2 separate regions of the Homo sapiens genome follow, and region 2 is linked to region 1. The links come from fine-mapping of genetic effects on gene expression. Tissue or cell type: CD4 T cells. Region 1 holds a variant in brackets; the other region holds the start of a gene. All regions are shown on one strand. Distances are between the middles of the regions.

Region 1 (10,130 bases):
CAGGGAGGGTAAGATAAACACCTACATCTTCTCTACCCCCGTCCCCAAATCCTCCCTCACACTGGTACACACAGGGAGGTACACACTCTCCTCTGCACGCTGTTTATGCTTTGTGGTGGCAAACACATTTAAGTCACTACAGATGAAGAACATTTCACAAGCAGCCGTGCAAGAGTAGTTAAAATGTGTTTATTCATTTACAAACCCAGTAACATGAGAAGAAACTCAGTGGAAACCTTGCTTGGTGGAGACAGTGCACAGTGTTAGTGCCACATTCACAGGGGCAGAAATGCTCGGTCACCCTGTGCACCCAAAGTCACCCAGGATCTCTAGAAAAGATCCCACTTACTGAAGTGCCTCGGATGTCTTCAGGGCCAGATTGTAACTACACAGGAACAGGGAAGGGCTAAGCTGAACTGCAAATTGACAAACACAAACGATGAGTCACAGGACTCTACAGTAGTTACAATGGCATTTTTATATGTCCCAAGTGTTGACTGGAGAGTAAAGTGTTAACTGAGCTGCTAGAACACCCTTCACTGAAAGAGCTTTCTACCCCACGCCCATTGTTCCGAAGAAGGAGAGGCTATGTGGGGCGGATGGGAACCCACACACCGAGATGAACTTTTCTCTTTCTTCCAATCTGCACCCACCATCTGACATTCTGGAGTGTAAGGCACTAGAACCTGGCTTAGAGAATAGTGGGGCTCTAAGCTCCAGTTCTTGGTGTGCAAAGGAAATTCTGACATACATCTTTTGAAAGAGATGCTAAAAAACCCTCCCTATCTCCTGTAATTTCTGTCTTTGACAGACAGGAAAATAAGAAGGCAGAAGATGGTCTGCAAAGGATAAAAACAGGTGCATCTAAGAATGAGAAAAATGGCTCATGAAGAAATGTGTAACTCTCCAAGAGATGCAGACACTCTGCTCAGAGAAGTCAAGAACCATAAACAACTCTTCATGTTTCATGGACAAAGGGAAGGCAAAGGCATACAAAAATACTCAGTTGTCTTGAAAAGTGTACTGGTAGTGATCAGGGCTACAAAGGCGAGCCCTGTACTGACAATGGAGGAGCCTTACAACTCAGCACCTTAAATTGTTGGCCTGAAGTGGTGGCGGGGAGGGAGGCGCTGACGGAGAGACCCATGGCTCACCACTTATTGCGTGTACACAAGGCCTGGGGCAAGCCTCACAAGTCTACCATTTCTTCCACTCAACTGTGCTTCTCCTGAATCCATGTGCCTGAAATGACATATGCAAGGTGAACATTCTTTATACTGTGTTAATACTGCTTATATCAATGTTCGTGAGGGGTGTGTGGGGGATGGGGTGCAGCAGGAAAATTAGAATGGCAGGAGGTTCTTATTTATTATTAAGCACTGTTGACCAAACCTCTATCTTAGATTTTTTTTTTTTTTTTTTTGAGACAAGAGTCTCACTCTGTTACCCAGGCTGGAGTGCAGTGGTGCAATCTCAGCTCACTGCAACCTCTGCCTCCTGGGTTCAAGCAATTCTCCCACCTCACTGGGCCTCCCAAAGTGCTGGGATTACAGGAGTAAGCGACCACGCCCGGCCAACCAAACCTCTATCTTAGATGTTAAAGAAGACCCTTATTGACTACACTGGCCAAGAAGCAACAGAGATATAAAGCTGAATCTTGTAGCTAACCCCTGAAAGCAAGCCAACGCAAATTCCTCCGCCAGGCCAGTCTTCTAGTGCCAATATGGAGACTGTGGGCCACAGAAGATTCCCTTCTATTTCAGGTTCTCAAAAAGTGGTGTAGACTCAGGCAAATGCCAGGAAATGTGTCCATATGCCAGAGGAGACACAGAGCCAGAAATGAAGGCTATGGGTCCTGTCTTCAGTGAAACACTGAACGCTCTCGGAAAGCTCCCATCATTCTTGCATCGCTACTGCCACCAAGACGGTGGCAAGGGAGGAGGCTAACTTTCAAATGCATGCAACGGCAGGTAATATACTGTGGAAGCTGGAGGTTTACTTTTCATGTTTTAGTTACTTTCTTGCAAACAGCAGTCCAGGAAAGCAAGCAAGCAGGTAAAACTCCGGGTGTGCATGAGGAGATGATCCAAGGCCAGTGGGCCTCCCAGTGAGAACCAAACAGGAGTGGCCAGGCTCCACTCCTGGGGCCAGAGTGAAACCGGGGTTTAATCACTGGGCTATGTGGTCTCTGTGTCTCTGGCCTGAATGAGATCTCTTCAATGTCGGGGGACAGGGATCCCTGGAAGAGCGTGAAAAATACAGTGGTCACTGTGCAGTTCTCTCTGCTGGAGCCTGTCCTGCCATCATACAAGGTGCTGTGACAGCAATGCAAGGTGAAAGGAGATCAAATGGCCCAGCTCAGCAGTTAGTGTTTGTCCCTTTTTGCTCTTCAGAGTTCCTGAATGAGAGCTTTTCTGGCTTCAGTACCAATGATCACAGAAGGAACATCTTCCTGATGCAAGCTTAGATGGAAGTCAATGACCCTGGCAGTGCTAAGAACAGAAGTCACACGTGGCCTGACGATGAAGGGGAGGTAATTAAAGACATTTCAAGGGAGGGGAAGGCCCACGGAAAACTGGCAACCCTGGGTCTCCGTTTGAGGCCAATATACTTTGTGTTCCTAGGTTCAGATGGCATACACCGACAAGAGAAGGCAGAGACCATCCTTCGTGGTGAGCACAAAATGCTATGACAGGTAATTGCAGAGAGAAAAAAGCACCCAACTCTGTAAAGCCAAGTCCAGTCACCCATTCACAAGAGTCCAAAATCCTTCAAATCTCTAGGGACAGAAGACAAACGTGCTGCCCAGAATGAGCTGAGACACAAGGCAAACCCTTGGAAATGACACATGGATGAGGAGGCTGTGGTTGTCCCTCCTTATTCCTGCTGGATTTGCAGCCACGGCTCTGGATCTGGGGCATCTACTGGCCTCCCCTGTTCACTCAAGAGGCCACTGCCTCTCAGGAGTCCAGAATGCTCTGATATCTGACACCGGTGGTCAGGAAGTTATGCTGCCCTCTCCTCTTGAACAGCTAAGATGCTTGGACACTAGACAGAGGCAAAGCAGTTATGCCAGAAGCAGGGGAGAGTCATTCACTGTCAGATCTGTCTGTTCAAAGAGCTCACATTAGACCAATCACAGAAAACCACCAGACTCACACAGCTTGTATTTGAATGAACCAGGAGAGACTTCAAGGATCAACTCTAAAGTGCTAGAAGAGAAATCTGTGTTTGGGGCACTGAATAAACAAGTGATGTCCTAGAAGATCAACACCCCATCAGTCTTAGGAGTATGACCCTATTCATGGACAAGGGGTTTCAATGGACAGCCTGAGTGCTCAGCCCCCCATCCTCCTCTCCTAGCAAGACAAGCAGTCTGTTGCTCAGAGGGGGAAACTGATGTCATTTAACAGGAGGTCAGGATTTCTGGTTCTACTTCAACAAACAGTGCATAATTTTGGACACAGCATCAGATTTCCTGACTTCTTACAAAGGACAGCTAATTAAAAACGTGTCAATCTGTAGTAATTAGTTGGAGATTAACAAGGGCAGAAGAGAATCCAAGTCTTAAAACTCTATGTGGGATACATTTCTGATGAAGCTTCTATTTGACTAATATACTGTGATGATGGCACTATTCGATTTTAAACTATGGAGACAGCTTTTATTATTTCGATTTGGATCCTGGTAAGTGGTGATACTGCTATGTAACAGTTAAAGCACAAATGTATTGCCATAGTTAAGGTTGAAGAGTTATGTCTATGTGTAACTAAATTCTTCTGGATTCAATTACAAATACGTTTTCCTTTACAAAGATGGCTTTGGAGGGGTGCAAATGCTACGTGTTTGGAAGAGCAGAGGAGGCCTGCAGCTCTCAGTCACCTGTCTCCATCTTCGGAGGTAAGTCTGCTCCCTGCTGGTAATGCCTGCATCTGCCCAAGGGCCTGTTCCTCCTCTCCCAAGGCCTTCACAGCTGGTGTTCACTGGTTGGCCCTCCAGCCGGCAACACCTCTCCTCCTCTCTGCCTAGAGGCAGCATCTCTCGGCTAGTTAAGTACATACTTGCTCCAAGACAACTAGACCCCCAAACAGAATTCTAATCATATGCTCCTCTAACAAGCCAACCAGAACCTTCCAAAAAGGTTTAGGCACTAAAGTCAGTAATCACTAGGAGTGGTCTAGTTGGGGAAGTGGCAAGAAATGTCTAGAAGGAGCCAGCGTAAGTGGGTAAACAGAGATCCCAAAGAAACACCAGAGAAGGCAGACACCTGAGCATTTTAAGCTGCTCTAATGAAATGGAAGGATGTCCCTTAATACACTTATAGACCTATCAGAGCTAATGCTTCCAAGATACCAACACGCCAAAGGCTAGAGTTTTACTAACCAAAATGTCTTATAGCAGTTTATTTGCACTTAAAAAAAGTCAGATTAGGGCAGTTGATATGCAAGGGGAAAATGAAGCATTGAGGCTGGACAACAGTCCATGATATCTAAGTTTCACCTTGGGAAAACAGAGACACTGCCTGAAAGCGCAGGGCACTTCTGGGCACCCACATTGTCTCCTGCTCCAGAGGATATGGAAGGGTGGGTGGAGGGAAACAAAGAGCCTGGGGGGAAAGGAGGAAAAGCGGTCTCTAGCCTTATGCAACGTACACCCTTTGGACTCAGAACTCTCAGTGGACTAACGTGGGTCACCTCTGTGTAGCTCTGCTCTGTGCTGGAGAGTCAAACCTGGAATTCCGGCAGCTCTCTGGAACTCAGCACAGCCCGCAAGGTTGAAAGGCCCAGGACAACACACCTGATCCCTTCCCCTCCCTATTCTAAAGGGAGAGAAACATGACTTTATGGGCCAACTGTGAAAGGGACAAGTGAGGCTGACCTGACAAAGTCAAACGCACTGGGAGAAGGGGAAGGAGGAACGGCTGAACTTTGGACAGCTGAGAGAAAAGCAGCATTGTTTCCATAGCAGAACACTCAGCATCACTGGTGGGGACTTTCTAAGGTCAGACCCTTTTGACTGGGAAAAGCAACACACAAGGCAATATGGTTTTTCCCTTTCAAACACTGTGGCTTACTTGTTTACTCAACTAAGAAAGAAAAAGCAACCTTATTATAGAGATTAGCAAGAGATGAAGAAAATTATAGGGAGGCTGCCCTGGCCCAAAGGTCTGCTAATGGCTTCTGCAGGGAGGATGAGGATGGTGCTAGGTTAACTGCTTGTCTCCACTACAGACCAGAGAACGTCCATGCGATGCCTCTTATCAGTGAGGTAGATAATCATCCTCTTGCCAGAGGTATCGAGTGCCAGCCCACAGCACAGCAGAACAGGAGAACGAGCTGCCGGGCTGCAGGCACGAGCTGCCCCTCAGGGCTGCATCCGACACACGGCAACCCCACCAGAACTAATAGGCTGCTCCAAGAAAATGGAACCCAAGGGAGAGGGACTCGTGCCCTGAGACCTGCACCACCCCGGCTTGCCCTGCCTTGAGATGCAGAATTTGAAAGCAGCTGTCACCATCACTCATGTCCACAGTGGAGCTTGCTTCTGTCCTGTCAGACATACCTCCTGCCACCACGAG[A/C]AGCTGAGTGAGGGGTGGGAAGGGAAGAAGAGCCCAGAGTGAATATTAGGAGGAGGAGGTGGAAGGGCAAGGAAGGCTGCAGAGCAAAAAAGTTTAAAGTAGGTCAAGTTCAAAATTATATCAAGGAGATAAGAGATGGGAGGCAAAGGCTCCAGAAGAGGAACAGAGGCGGAAGGAAGAGAAGCTCCAAGGTGACGCCCACTCTAGGACAAGATGATGGGGAGGAGGTGAGGCTGCCCTGGTGGCATCACTTCCCATGTAAGTCACTCAGCTCCATGTCATCCTTTCGGCGCTTCTGGGTGAAGAGGGAGGCGACAGGGTAGAGCTTGGCCTTGGCCTGGAAGCGGTATCCCGCGATGTCAATCTCATACTCTCCCCGGTTGATGAAATCTGCTGTCACCACTTGCTCTTCCCCCGTGTCCTCAGAAAAATTGTGCACAAAGCCCAGGCAAACGTGGCGCTCCAGGCTGTAGCTGTAGGCACTGCTGGTGGTCTTGCCAACATACTGCCCATTCCGGTAAATGGGCTCTCCCCACCAAGGCCAAAGGTCTAGGTCTGAATCATGGTCGTCCAGGATGAACATGGTGAGGCGTTTATACACTCCATTCTGCTTCTGCTGCAGGAGGGCGTCGCGACCAATGAAATCCATGCCCTAAGAAAGAAAGGAAACGCCGAGTCATCCAGCGACACTCAGACCCTCGGCACAGAGAGCAGCACCGTGGGAAGGGTCCCCTGGTGTCACTGCAATGGGGCACAGCCGCCTCCTCCCACAACCCTGCCAGCTTTTGGGAAACTGTGCGATTTCTACCATGTGAAAAACTGCATGTGAAATATAAAAGACGCCGCGGTAATTTTTGTAACAACAGAGGTACGCATTTTGTTTCCTATTTTATAAACATAAAGTCACAAGACCAGATAGAACAAAAACGTTTAGGAAGAAAACTCACTCACTTAATAAAATACCTTATCAGTCCAGTACTTTAGAAAAATGTTTTTATATTGGCCAGTCGTGGTGGCTCACGCCTTGAACAGAGATGAGGCAAACCTCATCTCTACTAAAAATACAAAAATAAGCTGGGTGTGGTGGAGTGTGCCTATAGTTCTAGCTACTTGGGAGGCTGAGACAGGAAAATCACTTGAACCTGGGAGGCAGAGGCTGCAGTGAGCCAAGATTCTGGTGGAGTGTGCCTATAATTCTAGGGAGACTGAGACAGGAAAATCGTTTGAACCTGGGTGGCAGAGGCTGCAGTGAGCCAAGATTGCACCACTGCAGTCCAGCCTCGGTTGACACAGCAAAACTCTGTCTCAAAAAAAAAAAAAAAAAGACTTTTTTATATAATCCCAACAAGACCATGCACATCTATATTCAATGCATACACACATATATACACATATGTACAACAAATAAGACTAGAATAAACTATTAACGGTGATTATGGCCAGGCACGGTGGCTCACGCCTGTAATCCCAGCACTTTGGGAGGCTAAGGCGGGGGGATCTCCTGAGGTCAGGAGTTCGAGACCAGCCTGACCAACCTGGAGAAACCCCATCTCTACTAAAAAAAGAAAAAATACAAAAATGCCTTCTCATGCTCAAGTGATTCTCCCACTTCAGCCTCCCAAGTAGCTGGGCCCACAGATGCGCCACCACACCCACCTAATTTTTTGTATTTTGGTAAAGACAAAAAATACAAAATTAGCTGGATGGCTTACAGCTACTCGGGAGACTGAGGCAGGAGAATCGCTTGAAGCCAGGAGGCAGAGATTGCAGTGAGCTGAGATCGCGCCACTGCACTCCAGCCTGGACAACAAGAACGAAACTCCGTCTCAAGAAAGAAAAAAAAAATAGTTACTACCATTAAATAGACAAAATATGGGTGATTTTAATTTCCTTCTTTATATTTTCCAAAATGGGTTATTACCTTTTTTTTTTTTGGAGATGGAGCCTTGCTCTGTCACCCAGGTGGGAGTACAATGGTATGATCTCGGCTCACTGCAACCTCTGCCTCCCAGGTTCAGGCAATTCTCCTGCCTCAGCCTACCGAGTAGCTGGGATTACAGGTGCCTGCCACCATGCCCAGCTAATTTTTATATTTTTAGCAGATACGGGGTTTCACCATGTTGGCCGGGCTGGTCTCGAACTTGTGAACTCAGGTGATCCGCCCAAAACAAAAAAACCAAAAAAATTAGGCCGGGTGTGCTGTCTCACGCCTGTAATCCCAGCACTCTGGGAGGCCGAGGAGGGCGGATCACCTGAGCTCAGGAGTTCGAGACCACCCTGGCCAATGTGGTGAAACTCTGTCTTTACCAAAATACAAAAAAATTAGCTGGGCATGGTTGTGCATCTGTGGTCCCAGCCACTTGGGAGGCTGAAGTGGGAGGATCACTTGAGCATGAGAGGGCATTGCAGTGAGCCAACATCGCGCCACTGCACTCCAACCTGGGTGACAGAATGAGACCCCACCTCAAAATCAAAAACAAAAGAAAAAAACCACAAAAATTAGGCAGCTGACTATAGGACGACTAGTTTGTACAAATATTCGTGGCATGTTAATGCATCACCATAATTAACTCAGAATAGCTTCCCAGAAAGCACTCAGTCTTTTAGACAGCAGAACACTAGAAATAAGTGGGTTTTTTTGTTTGTTTTTCAATTGTAATTCAGAGACAAGGTCTTGCTGTATTGCCCAGGCTGAGCTCAAGTGATCCTCCTGCCTTGGCCTCCCAAAGTGCTAGGATTACAGTTGTGAGCCACCGCACCTGACCAAGTGTCATCTATTTACTATGTTTTCTTTTTTCTGAGACGGAGTCTTGCCCTGTCACACAGGCTGGAGTGCAGTGGTGCGATTTTGGCTCACTGCAACCTCTGCCTGTTAGGTTCAAGTGATTCTCCTGCCTCAGCCTCCCGAGTAGCTGGAACTACAGGTGCTGGCCACCACGCCCAGCTACTTTTTGTAAATTTTTTTTTTTTTGAGACGGAGTCTCGCTCTGTCGCCCAGGCTGGAGTGCAGTGGCGTGATCTCGGCTCACTGCAACCTCTGCCTCCTGGGTTCACGCCATTCTCCTGACTATAGGCGCCCGCAACCACACCCGGCTAATTTTTTGTATTTTTAGTAGAGACGGGGTTTCACTGTGTTAGCTAGGATGATCTCGATCTCCTGAACTTGTGATCCGCCCGCCTTGGCCTCCCAAAGTGTTGGGATTACAGGTGTGAGCCACCGTGCCCGGCCTACTTTTTGTATTTTTAGTAGAGACGGGTTTTGCCATGTTGGCCAGGCTGGTCTCGAACTCCTGACCTCAGGTGATCCACCCGCCTCAGCCTCCCAAAGTGCTGGGATTCAGGCGTGAGCCACCATTATTATGTTTTCATTTGAAGATATTTTATCCTATAAAGTTTTCATTCTCAGGGCACTCTTGTCCTCATTTACCTGATGCTAACATCAAGGCCTCAATCTTTTCCCCCTTTTCCTGTCACATCAGTTCTTCTTCCTAGTCTAGTGCAGATTCACTACTCGGGATGCTGAGTGAAAGTGGAGTCTGGGTAAACACAGTACCTTCTCTAATTTCACCCGAGACTCTCGTCCACATTCCAGGGGCGTGGTGAGGTTATTTATATCCTGACCCCAGAAGGCAAAAAACTTCTCAATTCGGAGACTGCGAAGAGCGTAATACCCAGCATTCCGGATTCCGTATTTCTGGCCAACACTCATCACTTCATTGTATACATGCAGGGCGTACTATAGGAAGAGACAGAAAGTTCATAAGCAGCAGACCTTCAGAATTAAGCATGGAGCATGTCTGGAAGCGCTGATGGCTCACACTATTAACATGGACAAGAGAGGAGGCGTATAAAACTCCCAGGATGTCTCATCCTTGACACGCTCAGGGCACAGCCCAGGAGTGATGAGCTGGGGTCACCCCAGCCTGGACTTAAGCTCCATGACAACAGGATCCATGTCTTTTCACCTCTCTAAAATGTCTTGTGTGGTGATTCTAGCTTACAGCAATTCTTAAATAATAATTTATAGAAGCTCTCTCACCATTTGGTAAATGGCCAATCTCATCATCATTTCTAAAACAGCCCACCAACCCTCCATGGTCTTCATCTGATTCTGGCTTTGTTCTTTTGCTCCAATTTCCCAACCACTGTTACTCCCTCACGTACTGGCCCAAGCTGTGAGGCCCAGCTCTCACACGTTACTCGAGACGTGTGCACACATCGGATGACGGCGGGGGAGCCAGGAAGGCAGGGCTCGCCTGCTCATGTCCCACAGCATTCAGGCTCTCAAGCTGCTCTTTTCTTGGTTTCAGAAACATGTACGTTATCAGATCAGTGAACAGAAGGTTTTCCAAACTGAAAGCAAATATTCAATCCCTGTCTGAACATACGCTGTTAAGTTTAAAGTCCAACAAAAATGAGACTACACTGTTTGCTTTTAAAACTGTAAAATGAAATCCAAAGCAAGACGTAGCAAAGAACCAGCTTCAGTGGTACTGCAGTTCTTTATCCTAGCACAGTATGTTTCTATGAACTGCACCACTGTAGCTGAACA
Region 2 (10,130 bases), 44 kb after region 1:
ACAAGGCAGGGTTTTAACAAACTTAATCTATCAGCAAAACAGATGACTGTTCAAGTTTCAAGAAACTGAAGAAGAAAGCACCTACTGGCTGTCCATGCAGTCATGTGTACAGGAGGATGAGGACTTTGAGACGAGAGGCGGTAGACAAGGGGGCCTTAGGGTAGCTCACTGCTAGTCATCTCCTTACCGCCTCCACTGCCAGCCACAGGACCCACAGATGCTCCACAGTCAGCACAAATTGTCCAAGGCCAAGGTATCTATGTCCATCCATCAGAGATGACTCTCAGAATTGCAACCAATGCAAGCACAGACTGTGTCCAGGCAGACATCCCATCCAACTGGAGACAAATTGTCTTGGCCACCTTGTGGTTGCCACCATGCCTCTCATCCCTGGTCCCTGTTAAGCACCATCTCAAAACAGAAGCTTCTCTACCCGGCTAGTCTTTCCATAATCTCATCTCCACGTGACCAATTTATTTCCCGTGGCCCAAGCTCTCTTTGCTTTCCTCTCCTTCAAGCCCCTCTACTGCACCCTCCAGAATACCTTTCCCAAAGGTAAACACCCACCCCTTTGCTGACATTCTCTCTACCCTCTGTCCCAATGGCAACACAGCTCTCCTGGGGAACTGCTGCTGCCAAATGGCCAGCCCCGTCCCATTGACCTCACTGTCAACCTCCTGGCTTCTGACCCGTGACCACTCGGTTATACTTGAAAACTGTCCTGCTCCTTGGTGGCTTAGGCTAGCACATGTTAAGCCACAGGCAGACCTCTGTCTGTATTCAGGTTCAGAGCCCAGCTATTCCTCTCTCAACCTTCAATTTCACCTCCTTTCTTCCCTCATTCTAAGCAGATAACCTGGCTCATCTCATTCCCTGAAACCCTTCCTATAGACCCACTTGCATCTGCAACCATCTCTTCCTTCCTTCTTTTATCCACTGGAAAGTTAATCTCCCCCAAGGGCCCTGGATCCCACTTCCTCCTCTCTTCTCTTGACCCTAGCTCCATCAACTGCTATCTCTCTTTCATGTACCTGCAACGTTTCCCTCCCTTTTTGCTGCTTTTCCTCAGCAATTTTTTTTTTTTTTTTGAGACAGAGTCTCACTCTGTCGCCCAGCTGGGAGTGCAGCGGTGTGATCTCGGCTCACTGCAACCTCTGCATCCCAGGTTCAAGCAATTCTCCTGCCTCGGCCTCCTGAACAGCTGGAACTACAAGCACGCGCCACCACGCCCAGTTACTTTTTGTATTTTTAGTACAGACAGGGTTTCACCATGTTGATTAGGCTGGTCTTGAACTCCTGACCTCAGGTGATCCACTGGCCTTGGCCTCCCAAAGTGCTGGGATTATAGGCGTGAACCACCACACCCACCTTAATGACTTTCTGATGCCCTCAGGAAAAAGGCAAAACTCTTTTCATATCAAGTGCAAGATCCTTCACACTCTGGTTCTTATCTGTGGTCTCATTTCTCCTTTCCTCACACTCTGACCAAACCAGACTGAACAACCTGTAATTCGTCAAACATATCAGGTGAGGCGTGAGTGTTCTATTCGGCTCCAGGTTCTGTGCATGCTGTTCCCTCCTGGCATGGTTCCTGCCACCTCTCCCCCAAATACAGGTAATCTCCTCAGGTCACAGCCTCTTTGACATCTTATTTATTTTTTTTGAGATGGAGTCTCGCTCTGTCGCCCAGGCTGGAGTGCAGTGGTGCGATCTCAGCTCACTGCAAGCTCTGCCTCCTGGGTTGATGCCATTCTCCTGCCTCAGCCTCCTGAGTAGCTGGGACTACAGGCACCCACCACCATGCCTGGCTAATTTTTTTTTTTAATTTTTAGGAGAGACGGGGTTTCACCATGTTAGCCAGGATGGTCTCAATCTCCCGACCTCGTGATCCGCCTGCCTTGGCCTCCCAAAGTGCTGGGATTACAGGCATGAGCCACTGTGACCGGCAAATAATTTTTAAAGCTAATATTTTTATAAGTAGTTACAATGCACCAGATACTGCCTATATATATAACTAATTTAATCCTCACAACCTTATGAGGTAGATACTAGCATTTCTATTCTACACTTGAGGAAACAGGCACAGATAAGTGGAAGTGACTCACCCAAGGTCCTACCAAACTGTTGAGTAGCAGAACCCTGCCAATTTGGCATTAGTGGCCGGCTATTTAATCATGACTCCACGCTACCTTTCAAATAAAAGCAGATGGTAAGGAAAGGACAGCTGTGAGGACTGAACCATTAAGCACATTCCCCTAACAGAGAAAGGGAATTGCAAAGGTGGCAGAACAAACACAGTAACAGATGAGTTTTAAGGTGGAATTAAAAAAAAAACTTTAGGCCGGGCGCCATGTCTCACGCCTGTTATCTCAGCACTTTGGGAGGCCGAGGCGGGTAGATCATTTGAGGTCGGAAGTTGGAGACCAGCCTGGCAAACATGGTGAAACCCCGTCTCTACCAAAGATACAAAAAATTAGCTGGGTGTGGTGGCACGCACCTGTGGTCCCAGGTACTCATGGTGCGGCCACCATTGCATCTTGGGCCTCACTAACCAGTTCCCGTTTGTTGGATTCAATACTCTCTCACCACACAGGCCAATCTTGTGTTTTATTAATTTTTTTAATTTTTTTTTTTTTTTTGTAGAGAGGGGCTCACTATGTTGCCCAGGCTGGTCCTGAACTCCTGAGGTAGGAGGATCGCTTGAGCCTGGGAGACAGAGGTTGCAGTGAGCCGAGATTATGCTACTGCACTCCTGCCTGGGTGACACAGTGAGACTCTGTCTTAAACAAAACAAAACAAAGAAAGGCCAGGCGCAGGGGCTCACACCTGTAATCCTAGCACTTTGGGAGGCCAAGGTGGGTGGATTATTTGAGGTCAGGAGTTTGAGACCAGCCTGATCAGCATGGTGAAACCCCGTCTCTACTAAAAACAGAAAAATTAGCCAGGTGTCGTGGCTTGCACCTGTAGTCCCAGCTACTCAGGAGGCTGAGACAGGAAAATTGCTTCAACCAGGGAGATGGAGGCTGCAGTGGGCAGATTCGCGCCACTGCCTGGGTGACACAGTGAGACTCCATCTCAAAAAAGCCCAGGGTGCTTGGCGCCAAAAAAGGGATCTCTGACCTTGTGTTCATTATGACCTTCAAAAGAGTGAAGTGGTGAGGGCATGAGGGCAGAGGAAAAGAAGGGCTTAAGACAACGAAGGAAAAGAAGGCACCAGAGTCTAGTGCCTTTGCCGCCAAACCTAAACCTATAAGGTTGGCAGCAAAACCAAAGCACAAACTGATAACAAAGGAGGTAAAGCCAGGGGAGAAGAAACTGAAGACGTCAAAGACAGAAATGAAGCACATCATCTGGTTTAAAACAAATGATAGAGTTTTTACAGTTCTGGAAAATGACCGTATAATATTCTCTGCTAAGAAGAATAACTTCTGCTAAACAACCATAAGACTGCAGCTGGCTCTACTCAGATCTGCTTATTCCAACAAGACCAAGGTGCTAGTTCTAACTTCGAGTTGTCCCTCTGTATGGCTGCAGCGTTGCGCACAGTGGACTGCCGGTCACAAGGAAGACTGGATGAGCGTGGGTTCACACAACATTTCCCACACTTGCCTCAGCAAAAGAACCACCTGGGACACTTGTTTAAAAATGACAGATTCCCACGGTCCACCTCGGCAGATTCTGATCCTGCCACTCCAGGGAGCTGTATTTTTCAACAAGTACACCAGGTGATCACGCAAGTTTAAGAAATTAACACAAGTTGGCCGAGCGCAGTGGCTCACGCCTGTAATCCCAGCACTTTGGGAGGCTGAGGCGGGAGAATCACGAGGTCAGGAGTTCGAGACCAGCCTGGCCAACATAGTGAAACCCCGTCTCTACTAAAAACACAAAAATTAGCCGGGCGTGGTGGCGCACACCTGTATTCCCAGCTACTTGGGAGGCTGAGGCAGGAGAATTGCTTGAACCCAGGAGGCAGAGGTTGCAGTGAGCCGAGATCGCGCCACTGCACTCCCGCCTGGGCGACAGAGTGAAACTCTGTCTCGGAAAAAAGAAAAAAAAAGAAAAAAGAAATTAACACAAGTCCCTGCCACTGGAAAAGCTTATCCGTCAGGCTGGCTCCTCCTCCACCACCAGACCCCATCCCGGTACATCACGTTTACATGCATGCGGAAAATGGGCTTGGAGATTCTTGATTCAAATCCGAGGTATCACACATCGGCCCCCAAAGGTCAAACATTAAGAAGGAAGCTTACTGCCCTGTCCCAGATTTTTCTAGGTGACTTCTTCCTCCGGACTCTGCAGCAGTCTTTAGTTCTAAAAGCACAAGCGGACCGCACGTCTCAACGCGGGAAAACAGTTCCATCTGCAGGGATGGAGGACCGGGCTAGACAAGCTGGAGTTGGCTCTGCGCCGCAGGGGTGTGCAAGCCCGAGACGGGGGAGCCCGAGGTCACCCCGGCCGCCCTGGCATCGGGGCTGAAGTGCAGGCTCCTGGAGGAGCGGTGCGCACGCCCAGGGGTAGCCGAGAACACAAGCCAAGGCACGAGCGGACAACCTTACGGGGACGAGTACTGGCGCCCGGACGCGACTTCGCGAGAGGCCAGGCGGAACCCACTGGAAGCGTGAGCTAGCGGGGACCACCCCCGGGCGAAACCAAAGGAGAAAGAGGGGAACCCAGGGGTCCCGGGGCGCTTAGGCCCGCGCGGACGGGGAGGCCAGAGTTGCCCCGAAGCTATCTCCTTACCTCACCGGTCCCCACGGGCTCCGCGCTCAGCTACAGCCCGGCGGGAGCAATGCGGCAGCCACAACAGTTGCCTGGGGTCGCCGCGGGCCGGAAAGCGGGGTTCGGGGATGGGAAGGGGGCGGGGCGAAGCGAGCAAAAAGTTCCGGGGAAGCCGAGACCGCGACCTTCCGCGCTTTACGGCCCCCGGGCAAGGGTACTGCCGGCGCGTGACCTCAGCAGCGCACGAGCGCGCCGTGACGCCTTCGCGGAGCCCCGCCCCTGCCACGTGGGCTTGTTTGGGTCTCGCGAGGCACCGCCCCCGCGGCCTCTTTGCCACCCTCAGAGGCGAGCTGTGGAAGCCTTGACTCTTAGGGCCGTTTTAGAACCGGGGCCTCGGACCGGCGGGGTTTCTGCACGTGGAACCGGAACATCTGAGATGATCGCAGGCCCTGTGGAGTGTGGGGAGCGCGGGAGTTCTTTCTTCCCTCGAGGCCCGTGCCAGGGCTTACTCCAAAGCCAGTGGGTCCCCAGTCCTAAGCCAAGCAGTCCCGGGGGAAAACGCTTCTCATCGCCGTGGGAGCGCGGATCTTGGAAGTGGCTCTGGGCTTTCTTGGGCGAGGCTCTCACAGAGTAGATCGGAAATCCATTCTGCTGGCCCGCCCCACCTCGGAGGACGGACTAACGGACCTGAGTTCCCGGCCCTATCTTACTCTTCTCAGCTTCTCAGCTTGGCTCAGCTCAGAGGAAGAGGAATCACTGAAGTCTCAGAGAAGTCTCCACTCATCCCTTCCTCACTGTCACATCAGCCTTTTCTTTCCTTCTAGAACTCATCACTGACTCAAGGATATAAGTTTGATGACTGTCTTTTCCACTGGTGTGACACGATCTCTGTCGACAGAACCTTAGTCTTATGCATAGCTTTATTCTCAGCACCCAGAACAGTGCCTGGCACCTCTTCCACTGAATATTATATGCATAAGGGTCTCATGCTGCAGCCACCATTGCATCTTGGGCCACACTATCCAGTTCCCGTTTGTTGGATTCAATACTGTCTCACCACACAAACCAATCTTGTGTTTTATTAATTTAAAAAAAATTTTTTTTTTGTAGAGATAGGCTCACTATGTTGCCTAGGCTGGGCCTGAACTCCTGGCCTCAAGTGATCCTTCCATCTCAGCCTCCCAAAGTCCTGGGATTACAGGCGTGAGCCACTGTGCCTGCCCCAATCTTGTGTTTTATTGCTGGCCACCTGTAGCCAGGCACTGTGCAGGATGATGGGATCCAGCAATGTACAAGAAAGAGGCGGTTTCTGCTCTTAGGGAGTGGCAGTCAAGTTCCAGGGACCCCTCTGTCACAAGGCCAGGCCACAGCCTACATAGTTTATACCCCATTTACTGGCCAGTCAAATCACACAAAGACAGCCCAGATGAGGTCTGCCAGACAGTGGACTGAAACTATGCCATAGGCTCCTGTGCTAGATAAATACTTCCATATTTTAGCTAGGATTGAATGCTTGGGGACACCTACCTGTCTAAAAAAAGAGAAAACGGCTGACCAATTTGAGACATTCTCGGGGAAGGCTTTCCTGATGCCCAGATGTGGCGATTTCATGAAAAATATCACAGGTTTTCCTCATGAACCATTTGGTTCAAGCCATTTCCAGGCACATGAATTTGGGAGAAACCTGGTTGTCTGCAGGAGATGGTGGATGAAATCAAGTGAAATACTTAATGTGTTGATTTCATTCTGTTTACGTGCAGTAAATAGCAAACAAATGGTGTAGATCTGTCCCTGATTTCCTTCTCCATCACCATGATCGGCCTCCACTCCAAAATGCTAAGTCAGGCTGGGTGCGGTGGCTCATGCCTGTAATGCCAGCACTTTGGGAGGCCAAGGCAGTTGGATCACGTGAGGTCAGAAGTTCGAGACCAGCCTGATCAATATGGTGAAACCCCATCTCTACTAAAAAATACAAAAATTAGCTGGGCGTGGTGGCACATGCCTGTAATCCCAGCTACTTTGGGAGGCTGGGACAGGAGAATTGCTTAAACCCAGGAGGCGGAGGTTGCAGTGAGCCAAGATTGTGTCACTGCACTCTAGCCTAGGCGACAGAGCGAGACTGTCTCAAAAAAAAAAAAAAAAGGGAAGTAAGTCCTAAGGCCCCTTTCATTGTCAAAGATGGGTCTTGTCCTTAGTAGGTTCTCATAACCACTGATGCACTATTTTTTCTAGGGGATTGAGTGTTTTTATTTTATTATTATTTTTTAGATGGAGGCTCACTCTGTTGCCCAGGCTGGAGTGCAATGGTGTGGTCTCGGTTCACTGCAACCTCTGCCTCCCAGGTTCAGGGGATTCTCCTACCTCAGCCTCCCCAGTAGCTGGGACTGTACAGGCGTGCGCCACCACGCTGGGCTAATTTTTGTATTTTTATTAGAGACAGGGTTTCGCTATGTTGGCCAGGCTGGTCTCAAACTCCTGACCTCGTGATCTGCCCACCTAGGCCTCCCAAAGTGCTGGAATTACAGGCGTGAGCCACCGCGTCCAGCCTATTTTTATTTTTTGAGATTAGCTCTCACCCTGTCACCCAGGCTGGAGCACAGTGGTGCAATCACGGCTCACTGCAGTCTTAACTTCCTGGGCTCTAGCGATTCTCCCACCTCAGCCTCCCGAATAGCTGAGACCTCAGGCGCGTGCCACCGTCCCCAGCTAACTTTTGTATTTTTTGGTAGAGGTGGGGTTTCACTATGTTGCTGAGGCTGGCATTAAACTCCTGACCTCAAGAGATCCACCTGCCTTGGCCTCCCAATGTGCTGGGATTAGAGGCATGAGCCACCATGTCTTGCCCTAAACAGACGTTTTAATTACGCTTGTCAAGTCCTCTTGTGAAATCTTCATCTGCAGTGACTTGGTAAATGTATTTGCTACCACACAGGATAAACAGTGTACAGACAAACATTTGACATACCTATGTTACCACAGTGTAAGAATGAATTTGGATCTGAGGTCGCTAAGATGCAGGCGTTTATCTTACCTCCCTGCAGCACCGGCATGGCTGTGGGGAAGGCCTCCCTCCTCCCTCTGAAGTTCTTGTCCCCATCAGTAGACTGGACATCTGCCTACAACCGACTTCACAGAAAGGACCTGACACCTGGCATGCTTCTCGTGTGCTTGAGAGCCTGTGTTTGTGTGGAAAGCAGGGATGTTCTCATTCACACCATGGGAAGAGAAGAATGTTGCGAGTAGCAATCAGTACTCTTTTTTTTTTTTTTTTTTTTTTTTTTTTTGTGAGACGGAGTCTTGCTTTGTCACCCAGGCTGGAGTACAGTGGCGCGATCTCAGCTCACTGCAAGCTCTGCCTCCCGGGTTCACGCCATTCTCCTGCATCAGCCTCCTGAGCAGCTGGGACTACAGGCACATGCCACCATGCCCAGCTAATTTTTGTATTTTTAGTAGAGACGGGGTTTCACCATGTTGGCCAGGATGGTCTCGATCTCTTGATCCACTGCGCCCAGCCAGGAACTTCTTTTTTTTTTTTTTTTTTGAGACGGAGTCTTACTGTGTCGCCAGGCTAGACTGCTGTGGTGCGATCTCGGCTCACTGCAACCTCCAACTCCCTGGTTCAAGGGATTCTCCTGCCTCTGCCTCCTGAGCAGCTGGGATTACAGGCGTGTGCCACCACACCCAGCTAAATTTTGTATTTTTAATAGAGATGGGGTTTCACTATGTTGGCCAGGATGGTCTCGATCTCCTGACCTTGTGATCCGCTCGCCTCGGCCTCCCAGAGTGTTGGGATTACAGGCGTGAGCCACTACACCCGGCCTGGAACTTCTCTCTCTTTTTTTTTTTTTTGAGACGGAGTCTCGCTCAGTCACCCAGGCTGGAGTGCAGTGGCACCATCTCGGCTCGCTGCAAGCTCCGTCTCCTGGGTTCACGCCATTCTCCTGCCTCAGCCTCCCGAGTAGCTGGGGCTACAGGCGCCCACCACTATGCCCGGCTAATTTTTTTGTATTTTTAGTAGAGATGGGGTTTCACCATGTTGGCCAGGCTGGTCTTGAACTCCTGACCTCAAGTGATCCGCCTGCCTTGGCCTCCCAAAGTGCTGGGATTAGAGGCATAAGCCACCACACCCAGCCTCACTAGTTTTATTATCCACTGACTCGACTTGCTTGAGACGATTTTACTATGGTGGTTATCAAATGGTAACTTTCTAATTCTGTAATTCCTTCTGTGTTTATTAGCTCAAGGTCTATGGGATGCAGTGTTGATAGGGTTCTGTCTACTTCACTTGCCTCTGTTCCCAGGGCCTAGCTCTCCAAGTCTTTCAACTGAAATCCCGTAGTATACCCCAGGTTCCCTCCTTTTGAGAGATCTTGAAAACTGTCTACTCAGCTCATTGCAACCTCTGCCTCCCAGGCTCAAGCGATTCTCCTTCTTCAGCCTCCTGAGCTGGGATTACAGGCACACGCCACCATGCCTGGCTAATTTTTGTATTTTTAGCAGAGATGGGGTTTCTCCATGTTGGCCAGGTTGGTCTTGAACTCCTAACCTCAAGTGATCCACCCACCTTGGCCTCCCAAAGTGCTGGAATTACTGATTTCTTTCTTTCTTTTTTTTTTTTGAGACAGGGTTTCACTCTGCCGCCCAGGCTGGAATGCAGTGACGCAATCTCAGCTCACTGCAGTGACGCGATCTCAGCTCACTGCGGTGAAGCGATTTGAGCTCACTGCAGCCTCTGTCTCCTCAGTTCTAGCGATTCTCGTGCCGCAGCCTCTCGAGTAGCTGGGATTACAGGCACCCGCCACCATTCCTGGGTAATTTTTTTACTCAGCACTGTGACTCTGCAAAATTCCGCTCTGCTTTAGAGAGGTCTAAGCTTAGTGTTTCAGGTTTGCATCTTGTGTATTCAGATTTCACCAGATGGCTTGAGACCTAGCCATCTATTCGAGGCCATTCAAGCCTCCAAATTTTGTCACTCCGGCTGGTGAGACTATAAAAACATAAAAAACCTGGATCCTCAGCCTCTGGCCAGAGTTGGCAAATGCAAGTGGCTGCAGGCTGTCAGCTCTCCTCTCTACAATCCTGACCCTTTAGTTACTGTTGCCTCTGCAACTCACTTAAACCAAAACCTCACCTCTGGCTTTCATTTTCCTTTGTAAATCTCCATCTTAAGGACTTCACAGGCCGGGCGAGGTGGCTCACGCGTGTAATCTCAGCACTTTGGGAGGCCAAGGAGGGAGGATCACCTGAGGTCAATAGTTCAAGACCAGCCTGGCCAACATGGCAAAACCCCGTCTCTACTAAAAATATAAAAATTACCCAGGAATGGTGGCGGGTGCCTGTAATCCCAGCTACTCGAGAGGCTGAGGCAGGAGAATCGCTAGAAGAACCTCAGGAGGTTGCAGTGAGCTGAG

What was found. PIP is the estimated chance that this variant, and not a neighbour inherited with it, causes the effect.
Region 2: PDPR starts here. The variant in region 1 is fine-mapped to the expression of PDPR in CD4 T cells (BLUEPRINT, PIP 0.95). The same link has a PIP of 0.9 or more in monocytes and neutrophils.

The regions. Positions count from the first base shown.
Region 1 is chr16:70,152,575-70,162,704 of GRCh38, reverse strand. PDPR (pyruvate dehydrogenase phosphatase regulatory subunit) reads right to left here. Exons shown (of 19, transcript NM_017990.5): 18 at 9,132-9,314; 19 at 168-6,230. The coding sequence ends at 5,826. It overlaps LOC400541 (a long non-coding RNA gene), which reads left to right. Exons shown (of 3, transcript NR_126007.1): 2 at 3,816-3,900; 3 at 6,201-6,365. Among named protein-coding and RNA genes, the nearest start is that of CLEC18C, 16 kb to the left of the region's middle. The variant A/C (reference allele first, on the strand shown) is at 5,579.
Region 2 is chr16:70,109,051-70,119,180 of GRCh38, reverse strand. PDPR (pyruvate dehydrogenase phosphatase regulatory subunit) reads right to left here and starts at 4,849. Exons shown (of 19, transcript NM_017990.5): 1 at 4,741-4,849; 2 at 4,251-4,360. RefSeq lists enhancers at 3,373-4,315, 4,836-4,885.